4 linked regions of the Homo sapiens genome follow. The protein of the gene in region 4 purifies or fractionates together with the protein of the main gene of each other region. This does not show direct contact. Each region holds a gene or a part of one and is shown on either strand. Other genes may lie near its edges.

Region 1 (8,118 bases), on a different chromosome or scaffold from region 4:
AGCATTCTATCTCCTACCTCTCCCACTAGATTTTTCCATCCCAGCATCCACCTGCCCTTATTACTGCATGTTCCAAGTTGAAAGCTAAATCCTTGTCTTTTTCACATGCTCAGGTTATGGCCTACTCACTTTAATCCTCAAAAGCTGCCTGTTCTCCTCAAGACAGGGACTTGCCTTTCAAAGCTGAATACTTCAGTGCTGCTACTACTGCCCCACAATCTGTAACTGCCATGAATTCATTCCCAGTACAGTGACTTCTGAAATAGCCCCCTTTATCTCGTCACGACTAGGGCTCAGCCCTCACTTTCATCTCATTAACTCCTGACTTTCTGGGGTTTTAACCTCTGCTAATTGCAATTAGTCAAGAGTGAAAGTTCTTTGATGTTTATTTCATTGTTTTCTTGATAATTTTTGCTTCTCTATTTTGGACCAAGAAGTAGACTACACTATTAGTAATACTATTATCCTTTTTGTGTTTACTGACAACTGTGTTTTGGAAGCCTTCAAAGGTAGGGTGAAAAATCACTCATAATTTTTTTTTTTTGAGATGGAGTCTCGCTCTGTTGCCTAGGTTAGAGTGCAGTGGCATGATCTCGGCTCACTGCAAGCTCTACCTCCCAGGTTCATGCCATTCTTCAGCCTCAGCCTCCCAAGTAGCTGGGACTACAGGTGCCCACCACCATGCCCAGCTAATTTTTTTGTATTTTTTAGTAGAAACGGGGTTTCACTGTGTTAGCCAGGATGGTCTCAAACTCCTGACCTCGTGATCCACCTGCCTCGGCCTCCCAAAGTGTTAGGAATACAGGCATAAGCCACCACGCCGGCCAAAACCTTTTTTTTTAAATAGAGATGGCTTCTCACTATATTGCTCAGGCTGGTCTTGAACTCCTGGCCTTAAGTGATACTCCCATCTCAGCTTCCCAGAGTGCTGGGATTACAGGCATGAGCCACCACACCTGGCCACTCATAATTACACCTTTTTATCACACCCACATCTAGTTATTCATGGTATGAAACAGCAGAATGTGGACTTTGAAGTCACAGAGTCCCAGGTTTAAAGCCTGGCACTGTTACTGTTTATATGACTTTTTTGTGTCTGAACTGCCTAACCTATAAAATGATAATAATACTGTCTACTTCATCGGTTGTGAGGATACAATAATGTGTATTAAAAACACAGGACATAGGCCGGGCATGGTGGCTCATGCCTGTTGTAATCCCAGCACTTTGGGAGGCTGAGGTGGGCAGATCACTTGAAGTCAGGAGTTCAAGACCAGCCTGGTCAACACGGTGAAACCCAATCTCTACTAAAAATAACAAAAATTAGCTGGGTGTGGTGGCACGAGCCTGTAGTCCCAGCTTCTTGGGAGACTGAGGCAAGAGAATCGCTTGAACCCGGGAGCTGGAGGTTGCAGTGAGCTGAGATCGCACCATTGTACACCAGCCTGGGGGACAGAGCAAGACCTCGTCTCAAAAAAAAAAAAAAAAAAACCAATTTTATAAGGTCACAGACTTCTCTTCCCACAAATGGGAAAATTCTCTGCATTATGCCTTGTCCCTGAAATTTCATACTCGAGATTATTTTCCATATTCACTTTCAGCTTTTGCCACATACTTTGTTTTTATATAGTTGTGATCATAATGCAGGTACCCTTTATATCCCGCTTTTACTTTTCATTTAATTTTACAGCTTAAGCACATTTCCATGTTATTACACAACTTTATAACTATATTTCTGAAATTAAACACTTTTTAATGTAAAGTAATATAATCATGTTGTAAGAGATAAGGAAAACATGGATAAATGGAAAGAAAAGTTACCCATAATTTTACCATTCACAGATAAACACTGTTAACATTTTGGTTTCTCCTATAATCTGTTTCTCCTATAATCTTATTGTTATATGTATCTTTGTATATCTGTGTGTATATTCGTTTTGTGTATATCTAGGTTAACTCCGTGTATATGTGCATATAAACATAGACTACTTTAAATAACTTTCATGTTTTTATAAAAACAATGCATACTCATTATGAATAATTCCACTTCAAACAATTGCAAAAGATACAAAGAAGAAAGTAAAATATCACCTAAATCCTACACCAAGAGAGAAATACTGTTAATATGTTGGTGATGTTTTAAAATACCAGTATGCACATATGGATTACACGTGTGGGGTTTTTAAAATTTTTTTATTTATTTTTATTTATTTATTTATTTATTTATTTATTTATTTTGAGATGAAGTCTTGCTCTGTCACCCAGGCTGGAGTGCAGTGGCACGATCTCGGCTCACTGCAACCTCCGCCTCCTGGGTTCAAGCGATTCTTCTGCCTCAGCCTCCCAAGTAGCTGGGACTACAGGCGCGTGCCACCGCGCCTGGCCAATTTTTGTGTTTTTATTAGAGACGGGGTTTCACTATGTTGCCCAGGCTGGTCTTGAACTCCTGGCCTCAAACAATGATCTTACCGTATGGTATGTACAATTGCCTTTTTTGTTTGTTTGTTTTTTGTTTTTTTTTTTTTTTGAGATGGAGTCTCCCTCTTTTGCCCAAGCTGGAGTGAAATGGCGCAATCTCAGCTCACTGCAACCTCTGCCCCACCAGGTTCAAGCAATTCTCCTGCTTCCACCTGCTGAATAGCTGGGATTACAGGTGCCCACCACCATACCCGGCTAATGTTGTTTTTTTGTTTTTTTGAGATGGAGTTTTGCTGTCGCCTAGACTGGAGTGCAGTGGTGCAACCTTGACTCACTGCAACCTCCACCCTCTGGGTTCAAGCAATTCTCTTGACTCAGCCTCCTGAGTAGCTGGGACTACCGGCACCTGCCACCACGCCCAGTTAATTTTTGCATTTTTAATAGAGACAGGGTTTCAACATATTGCTCAGGCTGGTCTTGAATTCCTGACCTCAGGTGATCCACCCACCTCAGCCTCCCAAAGTTCTGGGATTACAGACATGAGCCACCGTGCCCTGCCTAATTTTTGTATTACTAGCGATGGGGTTTCGGCATGTTGGCCAGGCAGATCTCTAACTCCTGATCTCAGGTGATTCACCCGCTTCTGCCTCCCAAAGTGCTAGGATTACAGACATGAGCCACCGCACCTGGCCATACAATTGCCTTCTATATGTTTTTTATTTAATATGACATTTGTATTTCCCCATGTTATTAAAAAATTCTTTATAAGCATTTTTAGTGACTGCATCGTACTACATTTAATATTCGTCTAATGCTGAACATTTAATCTCCCCACCCCCCACTTTTTGGTGTTACAGATAACACTACAGTGAACATCTCTGTAGAACACTTTATTACATTTCAGGTTATTTTCTGAGAACAGACTCTATATCCCTCATTTTATTGGATGCGCATTAAATGGTTCTAGACTTACTTACACTTTCACTTCTGATGCTTCTGTTCAGTATCTCAAAGAATGACCGTTCTCTCTTAACAACCATTATACCTCTTTTCTGATGTTAAAAATCTACATTCATTACAGAAAAGTTGGAAAATAGTAGGCCGGGTGCTCACGCCTGTAATTCCAGCACTTTGGGAGGCTGAGGCGGGTGGATCACCTGAGGTCAGGAGTTTGAGACCAGCCTGACCAACATGGAGAAACCCCATCTCTACTAAAAATACAAAATTAGCTGGGCATGGTGGCGTATGCCTGTAATCCCATCTACTTCGGAGACTGAAGCAGGAGAATCGCTTGAACCCCAGAGGCAGAGGTTGCAGTGAGTCAAGATCGTGCCATTGCACTCCAGCCTGGGCAACAAGAGCAAAACTCCATCTCAAAAAGAAAAAAAAGAAAGGAAAAGTCGGAAAATAGTGAAACACACTCTACTCTCTGTGCTTTTGATCTTTTTTCCATGCTGTCACCTATGCGTTTGTTGTTGTTCTATAAAATTGAGGACATAAGAAGCAGATTGATGTGTAACTTGTTTTTTTCTTTTTTTTTCTTTTTTTTTTTTTTTGAGACAGAATTTCACTCTTTTCGCTCAGAGTGGAGTGCAATGGCGCAATCTCAGCTTACTGCAGCCTCCGCCCACCTGTTCAAGCAGTTCTCCTGCCTCAGCCTCCTGAGTAGCTGGGATTACAGGCATGCACTACCACACCCAGCTAATTTTGTATTTTTTTAGTAGAGACTGAGTTTCACCATGTTGGCCAGGCTGGTCTCAGAACTCCTGAGTCAGATTATCTGCCTGCCTCAACCTCCCAAAGTGCTGGGATTACAGGCACAAGCCATTGCGCCTGGCCTGTAACTTGCTTTTTTTACACTCAACACCACAAACAGAATATTTTCTCATATTATAAAATATTCTACAACATGTACATTACTTTTTTGATGACTTGCTGAAACAAAATCAACAAGCAGAGAAACTGAAATTCCCTATACTAGAAAAACCATTGTGGGAAAGGCCAGCAAATTTCTTCTGGCTTGCCCAAAATCCTCAAAACTTCCCCAGTTGAAGTGATACAGGTATGGAAGAGCATCTGAGACATATCATCTGTGAGTCCTGCTGAGCCCCATCAGTCCTCCACCACTGGTGGGGGCTTCTGGGCCCCACATTTTTAAAGCAGTAGTTGCTAGGTTGACACCATTTCAGCCACATGGACTTGTTAGTGAGTCGTGGCATCCGCTTTATGAGGCAGCAGCGCAGCCTAGAGTCAACATCAAGCCATATGTTGATGCACAAGAGGCTCGCATGTATGCCTATACCAGGCTCTGATTCACTGAATTCATTGGCCAGAATCAGGGATGTTTTCTGAAGGCGTAAGTAAGAGCTATAGCCTTCAGGTCTTCTTGCCACACTGGCAGCCTGGCATAGCAAAGAGAGCACAGGCTTTAGGGTCACAGACCTGGCTTCACTCACTGGCTGGGTCACCTTGGGCAAGCCACTTCACTCATCTGAGCCTCAGTTTTTCTGAATAATGTGGCAAAGTGATACCTACCTCATTGGGGTAGTTCTGAGGACCAAAGGAGAAAATATATGTAGAAAACACATCACTAATTTTTTTTTTTTTGAGGTGGAGTTTCGCTCTTGTCGCCCAGGCTGGAGTGCAGTGGCGCAATCTCGGCTCGCTGCAACCTCCGCCTCCTGGGTTGAAGTGATTCTCCTACCTCAGCCTCCCAAGTAGCTGGGATTACAGGCACACGCCACCATGCCCAGCTAATTTTTGAATTTTTAGGAGAGACAGGGTTTCACCATGTTGGCCAGGATGGCCTCAATCTCTTGACCTCGTGATCCGCCTGCCTTGGCCTCCTGAAGTGCTAGGATTACAGATGTGAGCAAAACGCATAACTAAATGTTAATGGTCCTCTTTTCTCTCTACTCAGCCTATAATATGCAATGTAGCCTAAAAGGCATCCCTAGTATGGTTACCTTTTCTGAATGACCTTGTATGAGCTCCAGGAACTCAAGCCTCAATTTCTGTATCTGTGCATTTGTTCCCAGCTCTGCAACTGTATTACTTTAAGGATGAGAATAAAACTCCCAAACTTCGTGTCCCACTTGCTGTGAAGTTCTGGGAAGTACTGAGGTATCCCTGCAAGAGTGCAAGTGTGCATCTCTAGTCTATTGTAACTTGGCAGCCTGACAGGAGAAGCTCAGGGCCTCCTAAGAATATGAGAACCACCAGGATTTGTGGGCTTAAAGTAGTTAAAGCCGCTGAATGAAATAGCCAGTCTTTGGGCTCCCTCAAATCTTCCCAGGTTTCCCAATTAGAGAATGCATTCACCTGTGTGACTCACACAGGCAGTGCCACATCTGCAGTAGGATTAACTGGTGTCACAGCCCTTTCTATTCAGCATACTCAAAAGCCTGACACCTTCTGGGTTTTTTCATTGTTTCTGTTTGAACTCTCTCACTGCAGCTCTGTCAAAACGCCTTACAAATCCTTTCCTTGTGGCCTCCACCTTAGCCTTGCACCAGAATAGAGAGATGATAGACCCAGACAAGTTCTGCAGCCTCTGCCATGCAACTTTCAACGACCCTGTCATGGCTCAACAACATTATGTGGGCAAGAAACACAGAAAACAGGAGACCAAGCTCAAACTAATGGCACGCTATGGGCGGCTGGCGGACCCTGCTGTCACTGACTTTCCAGGTGAGGGGGCCTAGCTCACACCCAGAGCTGGACCAGGGTTTGGCCACTGGGGCTACCCGGACCAGCTGACGTTGTGCTTTTCCTCCTTAGGTCTTGTAAGTAGGGTTTGCGAACTCAGATGGCTACAGAAGCCAGATGAGAAATTAAAATGAGAGCCAGGAAGGGGATATGGTCAGCTGAAGAGTGAATGCCATTCCTACTCAGCTGTTACCATATCTTTCAGGTTTTCTTTTCTTTTTTTTTTTTTTTTTTTTTTGAGACAGAGTCTTGCTCTGTCACCCAGGCTGGAGTGCAGTGGCGCGATCTCGGCTTACTGCAAGCTCCACCTCCCAGGTTCATGCCATCCTTCTGCCTCAGCCTCCTGAGTAGCTGGGACTACAGGTGCCTGACACCATGCCCAGCTAATTTTTTTGTATTTTTAGTAGAGACGGGGTTTCACCATGTTAGCCAGGATGGTCTCGATCTCCTGACCTTGTGATCCGCCCACCTCGGCCTCCCAAAGTGCTAGAATTACAGGCGTGAGCCACCGCGCCCAGCCCTCTTTCAGGTTTTCAAAAGACTCTGGAAAGCCAGATTTATATAGAAATCCCTCTGTTTTTGTTTTTGCGTTTGTGTTTTTTGAGATGGAGTCTCCCTCTGTCACCCAGGCTGGAGTGCAGCGGCGCAATCTCAGCTCACTGCAGCCTCCACCTCCTGGGTTCAAGCGATTTTCCTGCCTCAGCCTCCCGAGTAGCTGGGGCTACAGGCACACACCACCACGCCCGGCTAATTTTTGTATTTTTAGTAGAGACAAGGTTTCACCATGTTGGGCAGGATGGTCTCGATTTCCTGACCTCGTGATCCGTCCGCCTCGGCCTCCCAAAGTGCTGAGATTACAGGCGTGAGCCACTGCACCCGGCCCCTCTGATTTTTAAATGTGTAACTAAATTAAAAAATTTTTAAGCCCAGCCAGGCATAGTGGCTTATGCTGTAATCCAAACACTTTGGGATGCCAAGGTAGGAGGATCACTTGAGCCTAAGAGTTCAAGACCAGCCTGGCCAACATGGTGAGATCCCATCTCTACTAAAAATTTTAAATATTAGCTGGGCATGTGGCGCATGTCTGTAGTCCCAGCACCTTGGGAAGGCTGAGGTGGGAGGATAACTTGAGCCCAGGAGGTCAAGGCTAAAGTGAGATATGATTGTGCCACTGTATTCCAACCTGAGTGAGAGCGAGAACATGTATCAAAAAAACAATTTTTTTTTTTTTTTGAGACAGTCTCACTCTGTCTCCCAGGCTGGAGTACAATGACACCATCTCACCTCACTGCAACGTCTGCCTCCTGTGTTCAAGCGATTCTTATGCCTCAGCCTCCTGAGTAGCTGGGATTACAGTTATGTGCCACCCCACATGGCTAATTTCCGGCTAATTTTTTTTGTATTTTTAGTAGAGACAAGAGTTTCACCGTGTTGGCCAGGTTGGTCTCGAACTCCTGACCTCAAGTGATCCACCCGCCATGACCTCCCAAAGTGGTGGGATTAGAGGCATTAGCCACCAAGCCCAGCCAAAAAAAAAAAAAACTATTTTTAAACCCTGTGTAAGTCAGACCTGTCTGCAAGCCAGATTTGGGCCAAGGACCCTTAGCGGATTAGATCAGAATCTCATGTTCTGATAGTTCTTACTTTGTACCTCCACAAAGGTGAACCCCTGAGAGAGAAAAGGTTGCTTCCTATCAGCAGAATTTAGACCCCTACATTAAAGTTTTGCCTCCCCCATTCTTTGGTTGTGGTTATGTTAAGGAGATACTGGTACTAAGAAAAACTACTAAAACTACACGTACACATGGTCCCCAACTTCCTATGGTTCAGCTTTATGATTTTTTTCAACTTTACGATGGTGTGAAAGCAATAGATGTTGAGTAGAAACTGTACTTCTCTTGCACTGCTAGGCAGCAATTGGTAATAAGTTTATCTAGATGTAACCCCATTGTAAGTCAAGGAACATCTGTAGAGTGAGAGAAAGCATGGAAA
Region 2 (8,118 bases), on a different chromosome or scaffold from region 4:
ATAACATGGATTTTTTTTCTATTATGTCTTTGATTATCCCTCCCCCCTCAACCCACTGCCAATTTCTTTATTTCTCCCAATACCCCCTTTCTTTGTCTCTTACTGAGATTCCTGTAAACCAGGTATTGGATCTCCTGGATTAATAGTCCAAGTCTCTTATCTTTTTTCTTCTATTTTTTCTTCAGTCTTTATCTAATTTTGGTAATCATATTTTTAATTTCCAAGAGCTCTTTTTGTTCTCAGGTTATTCCTTTTTTATAGCATCCTGTACTTTAATGAATGCACCATGTCTTCAAATCTCTCTGAAACTAATTAGAATGTGTTAAATTTATCTTCTGTCCTCTAAATTATTTTATCAGGCAGTTGTTCTATTTATTTATTGATTGATTTTCATCTTTCACTTCCATGTAGGCTTTTCTTAAATGTCTGGTGATCTTTGGTTATGCGTTTGTATTTAAGAATGAAGGACAAGGCCGGGCGCGGTGGCTTACGCTTATAATCCCAGCACTTTGGGAGGCCGAGGTGGGCAGATCACTTAAGGTCAGGAGTTCGAGACCAGCCTGGCCAACATGGTGAAACCCTGCCTCTACTAAAAATACAAAAATTAGCTGAGCGTGGTGGTGCGTGCCTGTAATCCCAGCTACTAGAGAGGCTGTACCTGTAATCCCAGCTACTCGAGAGGCTGAGGCAGGAGAATCACTTGAACCTGGGAGGTAGAGGTTGCAGTGAGCCAAGGTCCTGCCACTGCAACGATCCTTTTTCAAGCACTCCAGCCTGGGCGAGAAAGTGAGACTCTGTCTCAAAAAAAAAAAAGAAAAAAAAAAAGAATGAAGGACAAGATTGATGATTATAGGCAGATAGAAGAGCTTTCTTGAATTCTTCAACCATTGGTTGGTGGGCATGCTTCCTGTTTGGGATCTCCGGGTGTGTGTGCAGGGCATGCATTCAATTAGCAGGCATGGCTTTAGGTGTCCAGTTAGGAACTAGTTGTATTAGTTCATTTTCACACTGCTGATAAAGACACATGCAAAACTGGGAACAAAAAGAGTTTTCGTTAGACTTAACAGTTCCACATAGCTGGGGAGGCCTCAGAATCAGGGCGGGAGGCAAAAACCACTTCTTACATGGCAGCAGCAAGAAAAAAATGAGGAGGAAGGAAAAGCAGAAACCCCTGATAAACCCATCAGATCTCGTGAGACTTATTCACTATCAGGAGAATAGCACAGGAAAGTCCAGCTCCCATGATTCAGTTACTTCCCCCTGAGTCGCTCCCACAACATGTGGGAATTCTGGGAGACACAATTCAAGTTGAGATGTGGATGAGGACACAGCCAAACCACATCAGCAGGCATGGCTTTAGGGTGTCCAGTTAGGAACTGAGAACCCCCAAATGCCAGAATGAGCAGGGAGGTTTATTTTGTGGTGTGATATTTATCCTAGAAATTCTACGTGTGCCTTGTAGTTTTTTAATCTTTTTTTAGATGGAGTCTTGTTCTGTCACCCAGGTTGGAGTGCAGTGGCGCAATCTTGGCTCATTGCAACCTCTGTCCCCCGGGTTCAAACAATTCTCCCTGCCTCAGCTTCCTGAGTAGCTGGGATTACAGGAGCCTTCCACCACACCTGGCTAATTTTTGTATTTTTAGTAGAGACAGGGTTTCACCATGTTAGACAGGCTGGTCTCGAACTCCTGACTTCAGGTGATCTGCCTGCCTCGGCCTCCCAAAATACTGGGATTACAGGCATAAGCCACCATGCCCAGCCTCTTGTAGTTGTTTGATTGCTTTAGAGAAGAACTCTCAGATTGTTAGCTTAAGGGCTAAACACCAAATTGCTGGAAACTCTTCTAGTAGTAAAGGAGGGAGAAAGGATAATTCACCGAGCTGTCCTGGAAACAGGCCTTCAATGAGTCCCCACTTATCACGCTCCCCACCTTCGCCGCAGTTCCCTCTTGCTTTTACTCTCAGTTGTGGCTTCCCCTGTGACGTGCATATGTTCTTATGTACTTTCAGTCTTCTGGAAATTTCTTGCAATCTCCCGTCTGCTGTTGACTAACCACACCAGCCCCTACCCCTTTGTTATTGTTTATTTTATTTGTACTTCTTTACCATTATTTCTGTGGCTCTGGAGAGGAGGGGTTTGAAGGAAAGCACATGTGCTCAGTCCATCATTTTGAACTGGAAACTGAAAATGTCATTTGACTTTAACATTTTAACAAACGTCATTTGTGGATCAGCCTAGAAATGAGTATGCTGCTGAGGAGAAACAGCTCAACTGTTTTATAATTGAGTAATAATGTCGTGTTAAAAAATTAAGATCACATTCATCACCAGGTGAGTCACTGAAAACTAACCGGTCTTGAGATAATTGAAGAATATAAAATTTTGCATCAAGAGACGATAAAGCCTCCTGAATAGAATAGAATCAAACTCAGTGTGTCTGTATTTGCACAATTGCAGCATATGAGGTTCCCATAAACAATATTTAAAATTATACTGTGATCCCAGATGGGAGGAGAGGAAAGAAAGGAAACCCCTTAGCATGTGCCCTTATTGAATGAGTTGCTTTTGGTGAGAAACAGGAAACTTTATTTAACACCCTGATGGCCTTCATCAAAAGACAAAATAGTCCGGTTTCTTTAGACCAATATTTTCTTTTTATTCAAATAATTTCTTTATCAAGTATAAGGAGCTGATATACGTTGAGCCACATTTTACACCTCAACTTTTCCACATTTTAATTTTTTTTTTTGTAAACTGTGGAGGGCTGCAACAAACCCTCTGCCAGCCAGCAAGGTGGGCCATTAGACAGCTCCAGCATCCTGATTTATTTATTTATTTATTTAGTTTTTGTTAAATTTTTTATTGGTGGTATTTGGTTACATGAGTAAGTTCTTCAGTGGTGATTTGTGAGATTTTGGTGTACTGAACCTGATTTGTAGTCTTTTATCCCTCACCCTCTTCCCACCTTTCCCCTGAGTACCCAAAGTCTATTATGTCATTCTGATGCCTTTGTACCCTTACAGTTTAGCTTCCACTTATGGGTGAGAACATACAACAGCATCCTGACTTAAATGACCATTTTTTTCTACAGTCAAGCTTCTACAACGAGGCTTTGAAAAAGAGACAGCAGTCAGTAATTTGAGGATTGGGAGCTATAATTATAGGCCAGGGTGTCACAGGTGGGGTTCGGTCACACCGATGAATCACCTTGACAAAGGATCTAGACTCACGAGACGGCTTATTTTTAAAGCACTCTTTCGAGATCATTCTCTTCAGAAGTATGCAAATCAAAATGCTTTCATCATACATTATTTTAAATCTAGAAATAAGAGATCTTAGAGCTTTTAATGATGGAATTGAAATTTAAAAAAAACTTTAAACATTGTTTTCATGAACATGAAATTCACAGTGTCATCCCTAATGGACTCATGTACTGTTTTAAAATTGCTGAAATTTATTCAATTTATTCATTTTTATCCTCTATGATATTTCCCTAATCTGTGGTATTGTGCTTCAGAATATTTTATATTGCAAATATTATGAAAAGTGATGGAGACACTGCAATGAAGCATCTTTGTCAGTTCAGAATAATCCTTTGGGAGAATACATTGAGATGAAATAAAACAAAACTAGGTAGGAAATGAGGGGATTCAATATAAATATATTAACTATACATTGAAATATATTTTAAAGGGTATGAAAAAAATCTTAGCTTCCCACCTAATAGAGTTTGACTGTATTTTGGTGTGTTACCCTAAGTACTGTATTAAAATAATAATAGTTTGTTAGCATTATTTTGTAGCTGTAAAAATCATTTTCAGTAATAAGAGCTAAATCACTGGCTCTATTACACTTCCATTTATGAACTCCAAGGGCAAATCATTATAGTATAATACTTTCCAAACCATTTTCTTTCAAGGCCACCTTTAAGTGAATGAGAATAGTCAATAATTTTATCGTCATATATGTTACAGCACATTAACAATTTATAACGTAAAGGGCTATATCAAATGCAATTTCATCAAAATGGCACGCAGATCAAATTAACCAAATTAACCAACCATGAATGTTAGAACCAAGCATTAATCCAATTTATTTAAATTATACTATTGGATAACAAATCATTCCCTTTTAAAAAAGTATTTCAAGTCACGTCGTGTAGTGGGAAGTTCAACTGCCGGCACATTCTTTGTCATTCAGAGGCAGAGCATGTGTGGTCACTCTAGAGGAGCTGGGGACAAGGGGTAGGGGCATTTAAGGGGTAGATTTAGGATATCTGCTGCTACTGCAGGATACTAAGACATTTTAACATGTTTTGTTGTCTCTGTTGAACCTGAGCTGTGGTTATTTTAAAAAAGAGAAATGCAGAAGTTGTTGATCTATAATGTAGCTTGTTTCTTTATTATTGGCCTTATGCTATTTTCTAATATAAATACGTTTGGCCACCTGTGGTACTTGGATGAGAAATGAATGAAAATAATTTTAGTTTTCTTTGAATCTGAGTTAGCAATGCATTCCTAAAGAAAGCCAACCAGAAAATGAACCAGTTTGCCTTCCTGAATCTATTCATCCACAGAAAACAAAACAAAAACACCCTCACTGGGTCCAGCCTGGTCTCTTCTTGTCTTTTTGTTCTTTGAGGCTTGACAAATAGGAGCAGTGGGATTTCCATAAACAATATTTAAAATTATACTGGGATCTCAGAAGGGAGGAGAGGAAAGAAAGAAAAACCCCTTAGCACATGCCCTTATTGAATGAATTGCTTTTGGGGAGAAAGGATAAACTTTATTTAACATGCTGATGGCCTTCATAAAAAGACAAAGTAGTCTGGTTTCTTTAAACCAATATTTCTTTTTTCTTTTTTTTTTTTTTAGACAGAGTCTCTGTCACCCAGGCTGGAGTGCAGTGGCCCAATCAGCTCACTGCGGCCTTGACATCCTAAGTTCAAATAGTCCTCCCAACTTAGCCTCCCAAAGTGCTGAGATTACAGGCATGAGCCACTGAGACCAGCTTGACCAAGATTTTCTTTTAATTTAAATAAGTTCTTTATCAAGTATAACAGTGGTTAAACTATCTTGTTTTCTGCAAATCTAACAGATCCAAATTAGTAATGCAGTTTATTGTTATAAGCAGCACATTCTTTACTTCTCTGAGCAGGGCACTGGCTTTGTCTGAGCCAAGATGAGATTCCCAAATGGGAGTAGAGGTGTGCAGGCGCACCGTTAGGGGCTAGGGTGAGTGTTCCAGTACCAGACAGCAGGTGGACTGTATGCCTTGGTGTGCCTGATCCACCAGGGGCTTCCAGAGACATCCATGTTTGCTGAGCAACTGAGTTCATCAGTGGGGCCAGTTGTCTGCTCTCAAAGCTAGAACAACAGACTGCTCTGGAACCCCTCTTCCTCCATCCCTTTCTCTGCCTGCACCTCCCTACCCATTTTTTCTTGCTGTCTGTCCTTTTTTCTTTTTCTTTCTTTTTTTTTTAAGAGAGTCTGGCTCTGTCGCCCAGGCTGGAGTGCAGTGGTGCAATCTTGGCTCACTGCAACTTCTGCCTCCCTGGTTCAGGAGATTCTCCTGCCTCAGCCTCCCAAATAGCTGGAATTATAGGCGCCCACCACTGTGCCCCCCTAATTTTTGTGTTTTTAGTAGAGATGGGTTTTCAGCATGTGGGCCAGACTGGTCTCCAACTCCTGACCTCAAGTGATCCGCCCACCTCAGCCTCCCAAACTGCTGGGATTATAGTCGTGAACCACCGCACCTGGCCCTGCTGTCAGTCCTCAGGCAGTGGCTGCACTGTGGGGACAAGTGGCTTGGGTCTTTTGCTGCAGTTCTATGTTCTGTGCTCTTGACAGGCAGTGTTGCTCCCTGGTTATGCACGTGTGGGTCCCCTGTAGCTCCTGGGCCCCGGCACATTGTATCAGCTGCTTCAGCTAAGGGCTACCACTGGCCACACCACACCACACCATCCTCTCTGTGGGTGTAACCAGCCACTGGCCACACCACACCATCCCCTCTGTGGGTGAAACCTGCCAAAGTTCAAGGGGGCATCAAGGTGGTAGAATGGAAGGTGCGGTGGACCACGGGGAGGGAGCCTCCAGTTTGGCTGTGACTAGCTGTGGCCTGTAGGCAAATCAGTAGACCTCGTAGGGTTCCCCTTTTGCTTGAACAAAAATTTGTAGGAGGCCAGGCGCGGTGGCTCACGCCTGTAATCCCAACACTTTGGGAGGCCGAGGCGGGAGGATCACTTGAGGTCAGGAGTTCGAGACCAGCCTGGCCAACATGGTGAAACTCTGTCTCTACTAAAAACACAAAAATTAGCCAGGTGTGGTGGCGCACGTCTGTAATCCCAGCTACTTAGGAGGTTGAGGCAGGAAAATCATGAACCTAGGAGGCAGAGGTTGCAGTGAGCCAAGACCACGCCACTGCACTCCAGCCTGGGTGACAGAGTGAGACTCTGTCTCAAAAAAAAAAAAAAGAAATTATACTCTAATATATAAAACAGATGCAAGGGGAGCTGTCCTGGCTGGAGTGGGCAAGTGCCTGGGAACTTCAACAGCTTGGTCGCCACCTTTCCTGCCTTGGGCCTCCAAGGAGCACTGGGTTCTGTGGAGCCCCACCTGAGAACCATTGCACCAGCTCACCTCTGAGGTCCTCTCCAACCTATAAGATGCTCAAAACAGACTCCCTCTGAGCCCCACCTGTCACTTACATTCACAGAGATAGAGCAACCAGGATAAATAAGTCACATTCACAGGATCTGTCCTTTGAAGTTGCTATTTCTTCACCCAGGATAACCACAGAAAAGAAAAACTGGACCTGAAAAAATCTGCTTGATTTTATATCTAGGACTGCCTTTTCTTCACCCCAAAACAATAATCTACATTGTTTACTATGGAACAGCTGAGGTGAAAATTCAGTTTAGTCGTGATAGGGTTGTTGGCGGGGTGGTGGGGGGACGGGGGACTTAAGTCAATGATCACTTCATTGAAATTCTGCAAGAAAGCTCAATTTGGAAGTTTACCACTCGGGATGAGCAACCCAGTGAATTACCACCTGACCTAAAAGTTTATGTTGCATATTGTATAAGCTATTGGGGTTTGCCTTTTTGTGGTCCACCACCACTATTTAATTTTAATGGTCTTATTGAGCAGTGAAGGCAGGAGCGCAAAATACAAGTTACAAAATTCTGTGTGTGTGTATATATATATATATATAAAATTGGCAGTGCCAGCCCAGCCAGCATGGGGCCTGGGTTCCAGGGTAGGTTTGATTTTATCTTGTGCTGCTTTTATCCTGTTGTCATAGAAATATCCCAAATTTGGGCATCTAAACTCTTATCATCAGGACCGCCTTTCATATCCAGAAACAACCCCTAAATCTTTGGCCAGATCATGTGTTGTAACTTTGAGTGAATAAATGTGGTCAGTGTATCTAACCCTTCTGACATCTCAGAATCAGTTGGAGTAAATGTCTGTACACTGGTGGTCTATGCATATTTCCACACACATTTCTATCAAAGCATGAGAATTTTGACTTGAATTACTTACTCCATTCCAAGTCCAAATTGGCAATGCCAGTCAAATAAATCGGGCAAAGTATGATGGATGGTGAGATGGATAAATGAACAGTAAGGGCTTCAGAGAAACCACCAAATTTATCTTATTTAATACTTTGTGACAAGACAGCTTAAAGTACAGAGTTCTGTGGCTCAGTCTCATATTCTTTCATTTGTCATAGTTGGATAAAGTAGTGAGACAAATAAGTTTTGAAAATAAAAATTTGCCTACACAAACATTAAGCTGAGTATCATCTGAGAATCATCGGAAAGCTACCAGCTCCTTGCTCTTACCACGTGGGCATAAGGATGTAGGGCTTTGGGGTCATGCTGCCTGGCCTGGAGTCCCTTGTGTGGTGACTTTGGGGCATGTTCTTCACCATCCCCCCACCATTTCGTTTTCCTGTGATGGGTGTAGTAATAGTACCTACTTATAGGGCTGCTGTCAGAATTAAATGGGTTAATACATGTAAGGTGCTTGAACAGTACCTGGCAGGTAGCAGACATTTAATAAACATTAACTACTGTGATTTATTTCCACAAAAGAAATCATTATAGAGAACTATT
Region 3 (8,118 bases), on a different chromosome or scaffold from region 4:
TTCAATTGAAATTTGTACTCTTTGACCTATATCTTCCCAACCCCTACCCCAGCCCTGGTAACTATTCTACTCACTACTACTATGAGTTCCACTGGGTTTTTAATTATTATTTATGTTATTTACTTCTTTTTAAATTTTTTTTTGTAATTTGAACTTGTGTTTTAGATTCAGTGGGTACCTGTGCAGATTTGTTGCATGAGTATATTGAGTGATGCTGAGGTGTGAGGTATGACTCTACCCATCACCCAGGATATGAGGATAGTACCCAATAGGTAGTTTTTCAACCCTCCCTCCCTCTATCCCTCCAGAGTTTCACTGTTTTGGAGTCCACGTCCTGATTTCCTTTCCTCTGTGTACCTGCCCCGGAGCGGGATTGCCGGATCATGCAGTTGTTGGACTTTCAATTTTCTGAGGAGCTTCTATACTGTCTCCCATATCGGCTGCTCTAATTTACATCCCAGCACAGGGCGCAGAGGACCCCTTTCCCCCAAATCCTCACCAACACTCGTTCCATGTGTCTTTTTGGGAACAGCCACTCTAGCAGGCGTGAGGGGTGCCTTGTGGTTTGGATTTGCATGTCCCTGATGATGAGTGATAATGAGCACCTTTTCCTAGACCTGCTGGCCATTCACATGTCTTCATCTGAGATGTCCACACAGGCGCCTTAAGCCCTTCTAGTGGGTTATGTGTTTTCTCGCTCTGGAGGAGTTTGAGTTGCTTATGTTTTGCACAGGAGCCCCGTGAGATGTGTGGTGTGTAAATATTGTCTCCTCCTCTGGGTTGTCTCCCGCCTCTGCCGATTGTCTCCCTGGCTGTCTCTCTGTTCTGCACTTGCTCAAAGTCCTTCCAGGAAGTGTGGGGCACTCGCCCTCCAGGCTACCAGTGACTTTTCCCAAGACCCTTCTGCCAGTTTTTTCTCCCCTCTGCAGACCTTCAGGTTGCTTCCCCCACCTGTGTCTAGGAAAGCAGGGCTGTGTTCTCATAGCTGTTGAACTTGGACGATAATTGATGCCTGGAGAGTATCACTCAGTGGCTCCTGCCTAATGAAGCTAGGTTTAGGAATTAATTTTTAAAAATCTTATTATTGTATCAACCCACTTCTTTAAAATATCAAAGAGCACTAGACTTTAAATCCATTTTCTGAGATGAGATTAGGAATACAGAAACCCTTAGAGACAGAAGGTAGATTAGTGATTGCTAGGGGCTGGGGTGGGTGGGCAGGGGGTGATCACTGATGGGGATGGGGTTGCTTTTGGGTTGATGAGATAATTCTGGAAGTAAACAGTGGTAATGGTTGTACAACATGGTGCATGTCTTAGTCCCATAAAATCGTGAACTTGAAGAGAGTAAAAAATGATGAAATTTATGAATGTACATTTTACCAAAATAACAAAATATCTGTGTAGGTGCTTAATCCTCATAGGATCCTTTAATGCTGTCCCTTCCCTGGAGCAAGTAAATGTTCTGGAGTTAACAAGAATATGTGTTGGGGAAAATATTACATTCTAACTCTTTTTCTCTATCCTTTTGCATAATTATGACTAAGGGCTTTGCCTTGGATCTTGTCCTGATGGGGAAACATAAAGGGCTTACTTTATTGTTGCATCACATTTTCAGAGCTTCACCTAACTATCTTATTTAATTTATAGTCAAGAACAATGTTGTTCCAATTGACAGGAAAACTGATTCAGCCTCTGCACAGTGATTTCCTAGAGATCAGAATCCAGGGGTCATTAAGATTTTAAACCAGAGTATGTAGTCAGGTATAGACACTGGAAGATTTCCACTGTGCTGAATTCGATGCTGCTGAAGAAGTGGCATCCAGGATGAGGGATTTCGAAGGGAGGGATGGATGGAGTAGTAACTTAAACTAATGAGGCTCATACTTTTCCCCCCCAGACTTCTGAATGAACAGTGAATCTATTACTGAGGAAAACCAGAGGAAGCCTGTGTAGATAGGTATCAATTAGATACCAGCTACTGGAAGAGCTTTCTCAGAGACTGATTAAAAAATTCTCCACTAGATATGGCTGCAAATTGCACATCCTCATGGAGTCTAGGAGAATCCTGCAACAGACCTGGGTTGGAGCTGCCACGGTCTATGGCATCCTCAGAAACTCAACTTGGAAATCACGACGTGGACCCTGAGATTTCTCACGTGAACTTCAGGATGTTCAGCTGCCCGAAGGAGTCGGACCCCATCCAGGCTCTGAGGAAACTCACTGAGCTGTGCCATCTGTGGCTGAGGCCCGACCTCCACACCAAAGAGCAGATCCTGGACATGCTGGTGATGGAGCAGTTCATGATCTCCATGCCCCAGGAGCTCCAGGTCTTAGTCATGATGAACGGTGTGCAGAGCTGCAAAGACCTGGAGGACCTGCTACGAAATAACAGAAGACCCAAGAAATGGGTGAGTGGGACCCTCGTGATTGGTGCAGGGAAGGGGAGCTGGGATGGGGGCTGCACGGTGCAGCTGGACTCGAGAGGACCCGAGGGGCTGCTCTAGGTCAGGGCTTCCAAGTAGAGGAGAGTTTGCCCGTCGGGGACACATGGCAGTGTCTGGGGACAGTTTTTGTTGTCAGGGAGGACAGGAGACGCTGCTAAGCGTTCTCTAACGCTCAGGACAACCCATCATGACAAATAATCATCCAGATTCCAATATCAGCTGTGCTGAGACGGCAAGTTCCTGGTGTAGGAGATGGACAGGCAGAGGGGGTACAGGGACCCACACACTGTGTGAGGCCAACATGAAAGAAAGACATTGGTGAAATATTAGGCCTGATGGAATGTAGGGAAGGAGGCATTAGAGTGAACTGAAGGGGGGCCCAGGAGTCCCATCCTGAAGCAGGGAAAGTGGTTGGTATCAGATGCAGGGATCTGCCCCCAGGTCCCCAAATGAGCCCCTAAGTTCTAATACAAGGTGAGCTGCCATCGGCCAATTGAGTTGGATTCACCCAGAATATTTCTCCTTGTCTTCTCTTTGGTTTAGAGACTATTTCATCTAAAGGACCCATGTTTATGTACTTAACTAGAATATTCCAGGCGCAGGCAGGTGCTGGAGTCTAGAGAGGAAAAAATTCAGACAGGATTGCTGTGTCCACAGAGCTGACTCTCTATTGGGAAGGCAGATTTGAACATTAATTACAGTAAAGTGTGAGCATTATGGCAGGACCCAGGGAATATGAGAGCTACTTTCAGGTTCTCATGGTGAGTCTGATTGTCTTTTTTCTCTCTACAGTCTGTGGTCACCTTCCACGGAAAGGAATATATTGTGCAGGACTCAGATATCGAGATGGCTGAAGCCCCCTCCAGTGTCAGAGATGATCTGAAAGACGTGTCCAGCCAACGGGCCTCCTCGGTGAACCAGATGCGTCCAGGGGAAGGCCAGGCCCACCGAGAGCTGCAGATCCTGCCCAGGGTCCCTGCATTGTCCAGGAGGCAGGTGAGTGTGTGAGGCCTTGGTGTCTGGGCAGAGGTGGGAGAAGGAACAGGAGGAAATCGTGTGGCCGCTGGACTGATTGAGAGATTTGACACAGGACAAGATTAGAGCCATTCCCCATGGACATGATACATCCCCAAACATTCATTCCTGAGCCATCACAGAGAGGGAAGCCTCATCTACTTTTCTCTCCACCATGAGAGCTTTTAGCATTTAGGGTGGGGCATAAGAAATGATCTCAGTGAAATGAGGGAGGCAGTTTGCACAGATGAATGAAGATTCCTTCCCCGTAGCCAGTTTCCTCAAAGACATTTAATGTAATAATTCAGCAAGGAAACCATTTTCTACAGATTGTCAATTTCTTAATTTGAGGAGTGTTTCTCAACTGGGGTGATTCTGCCTTTCCGGACACATGGCCATGTCTGGAGATGCTTTTGTGTGTCATTGTAGGGGATGGTGGGGTGTTAATAGCATCTAGAGGGTGGAGGTGGGGTCTCTGCTCTGCACAGGAGCGCCCCCTCCAGCAGGGTGATGCAGCCCCAATGCCAGTGGTGCCACAGCTGAGGGGCCTCGACTAGAGTCATGCTCCTTCCAGTGTCAGGTGCAGGGAGACGTTGGCACGGCGGGGAGAAATATGCTCAGAGAACCAAACAGTGAAAACCACCAGGCACAGGAGCTGATTTGGAATATGGAGGGTGCAGATTAGGGACAGACACAGAAATGAGATGGTGATGTTTACGTGGGGTGATGGGGTGGTCCAGGGGAAGTCTGCACGTATTTCCACACCTGTGTCATTAGAAGAGTTGTTGCATCCAATCAGAAGGGGACAGATGTGTCCCTGCTTCCACCAGTTTGGACACAGCAGTCATTACTCTTGGTTTTTCCTCTTCAGGGAGAGGACTTTCTGCTACACAAGAGTATTGACGTAACAGGTGACCCAAAGTCTCTGAGACCCAAGCAGACCTTGGAGAAGGATCTGAAGGAAAACAGGGAAGAGAACCCAGGACTGACATCCCCAGAGCCTCAGCTTCCAAAGAGTCCCAGTGAGTATGAAGACTTGGATCCACAGGGGTTAGTCCCTCTCTTCTGGGGTGCGGGGCTGGGGGCCCAGCATTATCATCCCCTGGGGGAGTTGGCACTCAGCTGTCAAAGCCTCCCCATCCTCTACTTTCCAGAGACCTACAGTCCAATGTCTTAGGCTTGAGCTTGAGCGGAAGTTGTCAGCCAACATCAGTGTTTGGTTGCAATGAGTTTGGTGTATTGAAAATGCGCTTTATTAACTGTGTGTGTGGAATCCCTTCTTCCAGCAGATCTGGTGAGAGCAAAGGAGGGGAAGGACCCCCCAAAAATAGCCTCTGTGGAAAATGTGGATGCTGACACACCTTCTGCCTGCGTTGTGGAGAGAGAAGCTTCGACTCACAGCGGGAACAGAGGAGACGCTCTGAATCTGAGCAGTCCCAAAAGAAGCAAACCAGATGCCTCCTCCATTTCCCAAGAAGAGCCTCAAGGAGAAGCCACACCTGTGGGCAACAGAGAATCCCCGGGACAAGCTGGGATGAATTCAATTCATTCCCCAGGCCCTGCGAGCCCAGTCAGTCACCCGGATGGCCAAGAAGCCAAGGCACTGCCGCCCTTTGCATGTGACGTGTGCGAGAAGAGGTTTACGTGTAATTCCAAGCTAGTCATCCACAAGAGATCACACACAGGCGAGAGACTCTTTCAATGTAATCTCTGTGGGAAGCGCTTCATGCAGCTTATTAGCCTCCAATTTCACCAGCGAACCCACACTGGCGAGAGGCCCTACACGTGTGACGTCTGCCAGAAGCAGTTCACCCAGAAGTCCTACTTGAAGTGTCACAAGAGAAGCCACACAGGGGAGAAGCCCTTCGAATGTAAAGACTGCAAGAAAGTTTTCACCTACAGGGGGAGCCTGAAGGAGCACCAGCGCATCCACTCCGGAGAGAAACCCTACAAATGTTCCAAGTGTCCAAGAGCCTTCAGTCGGCTGAAATTGTTAAGACGCCACCAGAAAACACATCCAGAAGCTACTTCTCAGTGATTGCATAATCCGGTCTATGCCTTCTGCACCAAGAAGAAGTGAATGATATTTTTCATCAATGTTATCAGATGACATTTGACACATGCAAGGGCGTCTGACACACAGAGGGAGTGCCCTAGATATGAATTGCCAGGATGTTTGAGTAAATATGTGTCCTCCCCACTGAGCTTTGTTTTCTGTTTCATTATGTCCATTGTTTTCTTATAGGTTTATTTTGGTTTGTGTTGCTGTTCTTCCAATAAACGATCATCTTATTAGTTTTCAATATTGTATAACGGAAAACTGAGTTTCCTGATTGACATGGGGTTACCCACTGTTTTGCTGTAAAGTACAGTTGTCCAAGGAGGGTGGCCATATAAAATACATAATGCCTGATGAAATTTGAGTTTCAGATAAACAATTTTCTTTAGTATCAGCATGTTCTAAATTATTTATTTATCTGAAACTCAGCTTTTATTGGGTATCCTGTAGAGTTTTCGTTTTCTTTTTTCTTTCTTTCTTTTTTTTTTTTTTTGAGATGGCGTCTCCCTCTGTCACGCAGGCTGAGGTTCAGTGGCATAATCACCGCTCACTGCAGCCGCGACCTTCCAGGCTCAAGCAATCCTCCCATCTAAGCCTCCCGAGCAGCCGAGACTACAGGAGCACGCCACCAACTTGGCTAATTTTTGTGGTTTTTGTAGAGATGGAATTTTGATATGTTGCCCAGGCTGGTCTTGAACTCCGAAGTACAAGTGATCCAACTGCCTCGGCCTCCTTAAGTGCTGGCATTACAGGCATGAGCCGCTGTGCCCTGTATTGTTTTTATTAGACTTTATTATAATTATGATATTCAAATTTTTGAAATAATTTTTTGTAGTGATGGGATTTCTTGTTGCCCAGGCTGGTGTGGGGTGAGCCACCACGCCTGGCTCTAGACTTTCTTTTTCAGAGCTGTTTAGGTTCACAGGGAAATTCAGTGGACAGCACAGAGTTCCCCTAGACTCCCTCCTCACACAACACAGCCTCTCCCTGCCCAGCATCCCCAGCAGAGTGGTGCACCTGTTCCATCAGTGAGGCTGCCTGGACATATCACCACCACCCAGAGTCCATAGTGTTCATTAGGGCTCGCTCTGGGTGTTGTACGTGCTGTGGGTTTGGACAAAGGCCTCATGAGTACACACCACTGGAGTATCCTGGGGGGTATTTTCACTGCCCCCGGAATCCTCTCTGCTCTGCATATTTATCTCCCTGCCCCAGATGGTGTATTTTGTGGCCTAAATTTGGCAACCTCTAAATTCCCGATTTGACTCTTGAACTACAGAGGCATTGGGAGTCTCTGGTGACTAGTTGGTCTTAGTGATACTACCATCCCCTGAAGGCGTGGTTAATCCTCAGGTGGGTGGGCCCCAGACTCAGCTTCTGATTGAGCAGACCGGGCATGGGGCCTGAGAGTGTGCATTAAAATATATAATTCATTTTAGAATAGCTTTCTAAAGTCCATGGAGCTCCCTAATGCCCCACATGGCTTCCCCCATTGCCAACATGGTTCATTAGGATGGCACCTTTGAACTGACTGGAGCGATGAACTGACTGGATATATTGCCGTGATCTAAGGCCCATACCTTATTGAGGCCTCCTTAGTGTTTACACAATGCCCTCCTCTTCCTTCCTCCCCATCCAAGACACCACATTGCCTTGAGTTGTCACGTCTCCCTAGGATCCTCTTGGTGACAATTTCTCAGATTTTACTTGTTTGGGATTACCTGAGAATGTACATTTTAGGTGGTGCTCATGCTGCTGGTCTTGGGAGGACATTTTATGGATGGCTGATTGAGCTGACGGGCAGAGTCCTGCAATCTGCAGAGGTCTGGAAAGGTCCCTTCCCAAATAGGCTGGATTCATTTATTAAAGACTACTTTTGTAAGACTTTGGTTCTTGTCATCTTAATTTAAAGGAATTTAATCAAGAGACCCACAGCAGAGAGATGCATCATAGAATAATTGATTACAGAGGAAATACAATATCTTGAAAGTTAAGGGCAGAATAGACAGGACATCCTGGGAGCAAGGATTCAGGGCCAGCTGCTCCCAAGGATGAGACAGCAAAGACCTGCTTGAGGGAGACTCCCCTTTATGGGAGTCTTGGATGATTACACCTAGGGGGGTGGGAAGAGGTGTTACTACTAAGCATATTCTGGGTGCTCTTCTGGGCACACAGGTGCAGTAGCTGTGCACATGTCTCATTAGCGTCTTAACTGCCCGCCCAGGTGTGTGTTTTTTACTATCATAACAAGAAATGTGTCGGTTTGTGGATGGGTAAGATCAACGTGCACATTCTCTCTACAGTGGAAATACTACAGTGGAAATACCCTACTGGAGATGGCCTTGCTTGAATGAACTCAATTCCAATGTGAACGCTGAGGCTTACTGTGTTGACTGTACAGTCACCACGCGTGCAGCATCCTGAGGACGTGGTCATTTCCTTGACTGCCTATCCTGCCTCACCCAGGTCCGTTTCGGAGTAGCATTCTTTGAGGCAGGGACCTGGAATCCACCATAAAATGTACATAGACTCCCCTTTCATTCAAGAAGTGGAGGTAGGGGTGGGTGGTGGTTCTCCCTTTTGGTGATTGGGTCCAACC
Region 4 (8,118 bases):
GCTGTGTGCAGCCCTTCAGAATGCATAGATAAATAGGGTATGTTTCTTCCTATAACAGACTCTCAGAACAAACGGAGGAGGGCTTAGGTGCCTCCACATCTGGCTGCCCCCATGTCTCTGGCCTCCCCCATGACCAGACTCCTTCAGTTGGGCCGCACTTGCAGTCTCTGCCAGCTGACAGGCCCTCCTGTTCTTAGCATGCAGTCTTCAGGTTTCTGCCCCAGCCCAGCCACACTGGAACCACAATGCCTTCCTCATTACCTGTTTCAAACCTTATCTGACTGAGTTCTCCCAAATTCATTTAACTGTAATCCATAGTCTTCCGGAGGATTTCTCTTGCTCTTTTTCTCCCTGATACCAGCCCCTCCTGTTTTTCCTTTTACATTTGTGAACTTTTTCTAACTATTCTTAGCTGGTGGTTGTTTTTCTACCCACTTTGTACAGATTGTTGTTTCTGGGGTTTTTCTTTTTGGGCAAATTTGCCAGATTACTCCATTCCTATGGTTTCACTTACCACCTACGTATTGCAGACATTCACATCTTTATATGCTGCCTGTACCCCCTTCCTGGGCATCTGACCTCTGACAGCTTCATCTAGGTGTTCCATAGGCACTTTAACCTCATCATGTCCAAAATGAATTCTCTTTTTCCTCAAGCCAACTCTTTTTCCTGTATTTCCTAGGCCAGAAATTCAAGGACTTTTCTCTGAGTAACTGAGCAGTAATTAAGTATAATTTTTTCCTCAATAATCCAAAGCAGATTGTGAGAAAACATTGCTTTTGAATAATAAGTGAAAAAAAAAATTTAGCCATGTCTATTTATATATTTTTCTTTGATGCTATTAATATCCAGTCTGATTTTACTCGTCACTGAAATTGTATTCAGAATATATTGATGGAATCATTTCAGGTTGTTTTTTCCTCTGCCACCAGATCCTCCAAATGTACATATTATTGGAAATCTGCCTTTTAGTGTTTCAACTCCACTGATTATCAAGTGGCTTGAAAATATTTCCTGTAGAGATGGACCTTTTGTTTATGGCAGAACTCAGATGACTTTGACTTTTCAAAAGGAAGTGGCAGAGGTAAGTTTTAACATTTTGTGACTATTTTATCACATGTTCAAATTCCAAAGCAAAATAATAATACTGCATTTTTACCACAGTCTGTGTTTTCTAAGTTAATATCTTATTACACACACAAGAACCCAGCAGCAGCTCAGCCAAAAGTTAAAACTTTGATGATGATGACAGATGTAACTGCTGTGGGCTTCTGGGAAAACATGAATGATGTATGTTAGCCAAGGAGGTAGTGTGGTAAACACAGGGATGCAACAGCCATCGATGCCACTGGAGAAAGACAAAAGTGATGCCCTGTTGGCCATACCCAGGATTGGCACGTGATACCTTAAAATTGATCCTTTAGGCTTAATGGCATGGCAGTTAAAGAATATGATAATTGGCCGGGCATGGTGACTCATGCCTGTAATTCCAGCACTTTGGGAGGCCGAGGCAGGCGGATCACGAGGTCAGGAGTTTGAAACCAGCCTGGCCAACATGGTGAAACCCCGTCTCTACTAAAAATACAAAAAAAAAAAAAAAAAAAAAAAAATTAGCTGGGTGTGGTGGGGGGTGCCTGTAATCCCAGCTACTCAGGAGGCTGAGCCAGGAGAATTGCTTGAACCTGGGAGGCGGAGGTTGCAGTGAGCAAAGATCGTGCCACTGCACTCCAGCTTGGGTAACAGAGCAAGACTCTGTCTCGGCGGGGCATGCGGGAAGAATGTGATAATCAATTTGGAGCTGAGAAAGAGAAGGGGATTGAGGGTCTCATTATTCAGTATATAAATTGTACTTCCTCCCTCACCTCAGTGAAGTCTGCTATGCCTGCATTCCCATGGCAGAAGTGTTCTGGGTTCACTCTAGAAAGTAAACCCTCCAGGGTAAGCAGGGGTGGTGCTTGAGCTGCAAAGGTATAAGGACGGATGTGCAGACTCTTAAGTGGTTTTTTAAAAAAATTTTATTATGACATATAAGTACAAGAGTATACAGCCATCCCTTGGTATCCATAGGGGATTGATTCCAGAACCCCCACAAATACCAAAATCTACAAGTGCTCAAGTCCCTGATGTCAAACAGTGTAGTATTTGCATATAACCTGTGCATATCATCCCATATACTTTAAATCATCTCTACATTATTTGTAATACCTAAGACAGTATAAATGTTTTATAAATAGTTGTTACACTGTATTATTTGAGGAATAATGATAAGGGAAAAATCTGTACATGTTCAGTACAGATGCAACCATCCTTTTTTATTCCCTGAATATTTTTGATCTGGGATTGGTTGGATCCATGGATATGGAACCCACAGATACTGACGGATGACTGTATAATGTACATGGATGACTTAATAAAGGGCACTCCTGAATCCCCATGTACATGGATGACTTAATAAAGGGAACTCCTGAATCCCCACCCCCAACATGGGTAATTAAATCACTAGTACCTTTGAGACCCCATTGTATTCCTTACTCTGATTGCATCTCCTTTCCATCCCATGCTAGTAAGGTGATCACTACTGTGAATTTTGGATTTATTCCCTTGCATAGTCTTATCACACAGATTTATATTCCTATGATGAATACACTTTAGTTTTGTCCTTTTTTTTTTTTGGACAGAGTCTCACTCTGTCACCCAGGCTGGAGTGCAGTGGCACGATCTTGGCTCACTGCAAGCTCCGTCTCCCGGGTTCACGCCATTCTCCTGCCTCAGCCTCCCGAGTAGCTGGGACTACAGGCGCCCGCCACCACGCCCGGCTAATTTTTTGTATTTTTAGTAGAGACGGGGTTTCACCATGTTAGCCAGGATGGTCTCCATCTCCTGACCTCGTGATCCACCCGCCTCAGCCTCCCAAAGTGCTGGGATTACAGGCGTGAGCCACTGCGCCCAGCCCAGTTTTGTCCACTTTTGACAACTGGGTTTATATAATGTGTATTCATATAGTATGTATTGTTTTTATCCTGAACATTCTTTGTAGGATTCACTGACGTTGCTTATGACTGTAGTTTATTTAGGTAGCTATATATACTACCCACTATTTGACTGTGTAAGATCCTTATCTATTCATTCTCATGTTGGTGGACCATGAATTAGTTTCATCGTTCTGTTTTTACAAACAAAACTGTTGTAAACATCCCATACTGTGTCAGTTGGGGCACATGGGCAACATTTCTCTAGGGTATTTACCTGGGAGTGGAACTGCAAATCTTCACCACTGCATAGATAATGCTAAGTTGATCTCTGAAATCATCACGCCTGTTTATATTCCCACCAGCAGTGTGTATGAGTTCATTTTGCTCCATATTCTTGCCAGTACTCACTATTGCCAGACTTGTACATTTTTATTAATCTCAGGGTAATGGAATGTCATTGTGTTTTCTTTTGTCCTTGCTGGTTTGTAGCAAAATGGGGCACTATTGTGTGTTTACTGGCCTTTTTGAGTTCCTTGTTTTTAGTGCATGCTTTTTGCTCACCTTTCTTTTGGGTTGCTTATCTTTTTCCTACTGATCTGGAGGAGTTCTCACATACTCTTTAATACTCTTCATACTAGTCCTTAGTTAAATGTGTTGAGCATTTCTTCTACTCTATTGCATGTTGTTATTTTCTTTTTATGGTGTCTTTTGAAGAGCAAGCATTCTTAATTTTAAATTTATGTCTAGTGCTTTTTGTGTTTTGTTGAGGAAACACTTTTATCTTGAGTTCATGAAGATATTCTTCTGTTATCTTCTAGAAGCTTTATGTTTACCTTTCACATTTATATCTATAGTCCACTCGGGTTTGATCTCTGTGTATAGTGAAGTAGAAGCAATTTTACTATTTTTAACATATGGGTCCCAACTAACCTAGCTCCATTTACTCACAAGTCAGCCCTCGTTGATCCCTGTCAGCACCTCTGTCAGCATTGGTCTGGTTAGATACATCATATAAGCATTGGTCTGATTAGAAACATCAAGAAAAAAATGACATGAAATCCAGGAAGCAGAGGGCTCCCTACAGGACAGAGAGAAAGGAGTCCTCAGGAAGAACAACCAGTCCAGATTGGAGCCAATTAAAAGGGGAATTTGATAAAACTACTGTCAAGTTTGCATAGAGTCAAAAAAAAGTTGCAAAAACTCAGGAGAGTTTAAGATTGAATTCATGATAAATAAATAGAAAACTAAATATAACAGGGAGTGAATCAAGGGAAATATACCATTATTGGAATGAGAAGTACAAAAATATTATTTGGAGATAAATAATTATTTTGAAAACCTAAGAAAAAATGAGAGACATATATAAAAATAACTACAAAACCTAACTGAGAATCTCAAGGTCACTGAGATAAATCCAGAAAAATATCATAGCCCCAGAAGGAAAAATGATTATTTTAAAGAAGCTGATTTTTCCAAGAATTCTGTATATCTAATTATAATCCTCAAAGAACTTATCTTGAAATACGCAGTTCTAAGGATCATCTGGAGGAATAGACCTGCAACAATACATAAGAAATGTTGAAAAGGGAGAGTGATGAGAAAAGACTTCCTTGTCATATGCTAAAATGTATGGTGAAGCTTTAATAATTAAAGCAGTATGAGAAGCAGCACGTGACAGAGCAATTACTAGACTAGAAAGCCCGATGCAGACACCTTAGCAGTATCTGATAATGGTCAGATCAAAAATCAGCAGTGAAGGAAAGAATTAAGTAAATGCATGGATATTTGGTTAACTATTATGAAAAAAAATTATCTCTAAATTCCATTTGGGTCTTTGGATCTTCTCTTTCTGTCCTCATTACATTCATGCCTTCCTTGGCATTTTTCTATGTATGTATGTATGTATGATATTTAAAGTAGATGTTTTGGCCAGGCGTGCTGGCTCACACCTGTAATCTCAACACTTTGGGAGGCTAAGGTGGGAGGATTGCTTGAGCCCAGAGTTCGAGACCAGCCTGGGTAACATAGCTCCCTATGTTACCTTGTCTCTACAAAAAATAAATAAAAAATTAGCCAGGTCCGGTGCTGCATGCCTGTGGTCTCGACTACTCAGGAGGCTGAGGTGGGAGGATCACCTGAGCCCAGGAGATCAAATTACAGTGAGCCGTGATCATGTCACTGCACTCCAGCCTGGGCGGCAGAGCAAGACCCTGTCTCAAAAAATTGAACAAATAAGTAGCTGTTTTAAGATCCTTGCCTGCTAATTTCATTACCTCTATCATTTCTGTACTCTTTTAGTGATTGATTTCCCCTTCTTGCTATAGGTTGCATTTTTCTGTTTCTTTGAAAGCCTGATAATTTCTGACAAAACATCAGGTATTGTGAGAGTTTTATTTTTTTTAATGCTGATGAGGGCTGGATTTTGTGGTATTGGGTTGAGTGTTGGGTTTGTTGTGACACATAGATAAGATTGCTTGAGGCTTTTATTGTTCTGGTGGATCCAGGGTAGCTTTTAATTTGGGGCTCGTTGAGCCCCAGTACTACATCATGCCCTTTCTGAGGAAGGCACCCAACGCCCTGCATGTTACAAGGCCTCTTGAGCCATGTGAGCCCCAGTTGCTCCTGCCTTCCCCTGGTTCTAGTTCAGGCTCCCAAGCCTCAGGCACCTGCAGATCAGTGCTCAGCAGGGGACTTGGGGGACCCTTGGGACCCTTTTGCTACCTCAGGAGCTCTGCCTCACATTCTCTCTCCCTCTCCTGTTCCTGTCTCCCCCACCCGCTGCTCCTGCACACGTGTGAGCACCGCGTGTGTGCGTTTTCCATGTCTCTGGTAGTCTGCCCCACAAATTCTGCCTGCCGAGGCCTCCCAGATCTCCAGGTCTGGCTCCCTGAGCCCAGGAGACCTCTAGGCTCAGTTTGAGCTGCCCCCTGCCTCTGCTGCAGCCTGAGAAGGGCCTCCAGTCCTCTTCAGGCCGGGCATCTAAGGCTCATCTCCTTTCCATTTCAGTAATGACAGTCCTGCTCCACCTGTTGTCCTGTTTATGCAAACTCTTGTTTCCTATGACTTATTCAGCTTTATACTTGTTTCAGAACAAAACTTTTTAATGCCAGAATTTGTTTGAAATCAATAGACTCTACTACTACATAAGCTTAATTCTTTAAATGCCTTCCTCTCAGATAATTTGAGTGTATCATAAGAATTTCATTTCTTAGATCTATCCCTCTCTTTTTACCCTTGTTTCTGTTTAGGGGAATCATTTCCAACAAGGGCACTTTTGCCTTATCTGCTCCTCAGGGGCATTTGGCAATGTCTGACATGTTTTTGGTTGTCACACCAGGGAGGGGGCTCTGGTCTCTAGTGGATAGAAGGTTAGGGATGCTGGGAAGCATTCTTCAGTGCACAGCAGAGCCTCCCACAGCGAAGAACCACCCAACATTAATCAGCCCAAGATGTCAGTCATGCCAAGGTTGGAAAACTTTCCTTTAGATGATTTGGCCATAAAATCTTTCTCTCAGGAGTCTTGGAACTTCCCATCATAAAAACGTAGGACCGTTGCATGTTTGTTAGGAACCCTGAGATGATATCACCACTTTTCTTAAGGTCTTTGTCATTTCCTCTTCATGAACCTGCTAATTCTCTTGGGTTGGTTTGAATTGGGCCCATGCTGAGTTTTCTTTGTTGTTTTTCTCAACCTTTGGATATGTTGGTTCTGACAGAAACCATTCTTGTTTCCTCTGCACTTATACAACTTCTGACACCAGATGTGTGGGTTTTTTCCACACCAAGCAATCTCCAATTCTCCGAACACCAGCTGGGTATCCTGCAGTTTCATTCAATTCTGACACTGTCCACATGTTTTTAGTGTTAGATCCCACAAGTTAAGGGCCAAGTCCCACAAGACTGCGCCTCACTTCAGATGACAGTCACAAATCTGGGCCTCTAGGAGTTCTGAGCGACCAGCTATAAAATAAATCAGAGGGTTCCATGTCCCCCTCCTCAGATTGAATCATTTTTCAGAATGGCTCAAAAACTCAGGGAAACACCTTACCTACACTTGAGTAATGGGTAATCAATTGGTCTCAGTGACCAGCCCCATCTTGAGCTACCTAGAGGCCTCATCCTAAGTTATCTCATTACTGTAAACTCTGGGGGACTTGTGAATTTAAAGCAAGACATGCCGATTACTCAGGAAATTTCAAGGGCTTTAGGAGCCAGCGACAAAGTCCAAATATATTTCTTATTAAACCACATCTGTGGATTTATTTTTCTCAGCCGACATGATTATTTTGGTATTTCTGCTCTTGAATAACACAATAGAGATACAAAATACTATGTACTCTATTTGTGTGGGGGGAAACACAAAGAAACAGAGGCTTAAGAAGAGGTGGAGTAATATTTTCGGTGACTCAGCATGTCAGTTGTGGTTATTAATAATAGTGTTGCTTCGACTTCACCATATGCAATTCTTTTTCTTTAACAAAAAAAGTTGATTTTAGTTCAATTTTAGCATGAATATTGAGAAGAGTTTATATAGAGTCTATAATTTATGGAATGCCTTAGAAGTCTAGGTAACACTGGTCCTCTGATTTTCACATTTTGCAAGTGAAAGTTTCAGTGGGAGAATATATATATACTATATTAGTCCATTCTTTTCTTTTTTTTTTTTTTTTTTTTTTGAGGCCGAGTCTCGCCGCTCTGTCACCCAGGCTGGAGTGCAGTGGTGCCATCTCGGCTCGCTGCAAGCCCCGCCTCCCGGGTTCATGCCATTCAACTGCCTCAGCCTCCCAAGTAGCTGGGACTACAGGCGCCCACCACCACGCCTGGCTAATTTTTTGCATTTTTAGTAGAGACGGGGTTTCACCATGTTAGCCAGGATGGTCTCGATCTCCTGACCTCGTGATCCACACGCCTCAGCCTCCTAAAGTGCTGGGATTACAGGCGTGAGCCACCACGCCCAGCCCCTATGTTAGTCCATTCTATGCACTGCTATAAAGAGATACCTGAGACTGGGTAATTTATTTTAAAAAAAAGGTTTAATTGGCTCACATTTCTGCAACTCTACAGGAAGCATGGCTGGGGAAGCCTCAGGAAACTTATAATCATGGCAGAAGGCAAAGGGGAAGCAGGCATGGTTTATGTGGCTGGA

Evidence for each region.
Region 1: the proteins of TFB1M (region 4) and ZNF346 purify together in Homo sapiens (co-immunoprecipitation; one large-scale study listed by IntAct). This does not show direct contact.
Region 2: the proteins of TFB1M (region 4) and MACROH2A2 purify together in Homo sapiens (co-immunoprecipitation; one large-scale study listed by IntAct). This does not show direct contact.
Region 3: the proteins of TFB1M (region 4) and ZSCAN5A purify together in Homo sapiens (co-immunoprecipitation; one large-scale study listed by IntAct). This does not show direct contact.

What each region holds. Positions count from the first base shown.
Region 1 is NC_000005.10:177,044,829-177,052,946, forward strand, and holds part of ZNF346 (zinc finger protein 346), read left to right. Parts: intron 1-5,874; coding exon of another isoform or gene 5,875-5,922; coding exon 5,923-6,108; intron 6,109-8,118.
Region 2 is NC_000010.11:70,057,730-70,065,847, reverse strand, and holds part of MACROH2A2 (core histone macro-H2A.2), read right to left. Parts: intron 1-8,118. UniProt on the Homo sapiens protein: Variant histone H2A which replaces conventional H2A in a subset of nucleosomes where it represses transcription. Nucleosomes wrap and compact DNA into chromatin, limiting DNA accessibility to the cellular machineries which require DNA as a template.
Region 3 is NC_000019.10:56,218,955-56,227,072, reverse strand, and holds the end of ZSCAN5A (zinc finger and SCAN domain-containing protein 5A), read left to right. Parts: intron 1-1,899; 5' UTR 1,900-2,026; coding exon 2,027-2,410; intron 2,411-3,238; coding exon 3,239-3,442; intron 3,443-4,331; coding exon 4,332-4,482; intron 4,483-4,746; coding exon 4,747-5,498; 3' UTR 5,499-5,770; downstream 5,771-8,118.
Region 4 is NC_000006.12:155,289,919-155,298,036, reverse strand, and holds part of TFB1M (dimethyladenosine transferase 1, mitochondrial), read left to right. Parts: intron 1-932; coding exon 933-1,084; intron 1,085-8,118. UniProt on the Homo sapiens protein: Mitochondrial methyltransferase which uses S-adenosyl methionine to dimethylate two highly conserved adjacent adenosine residues (A1583 and A1584) within the loop of helix 45 at the 3-prime end of 12S rRNA, thereby regulating the assembly or stability of the small subunit of the mitochondrial ribosome.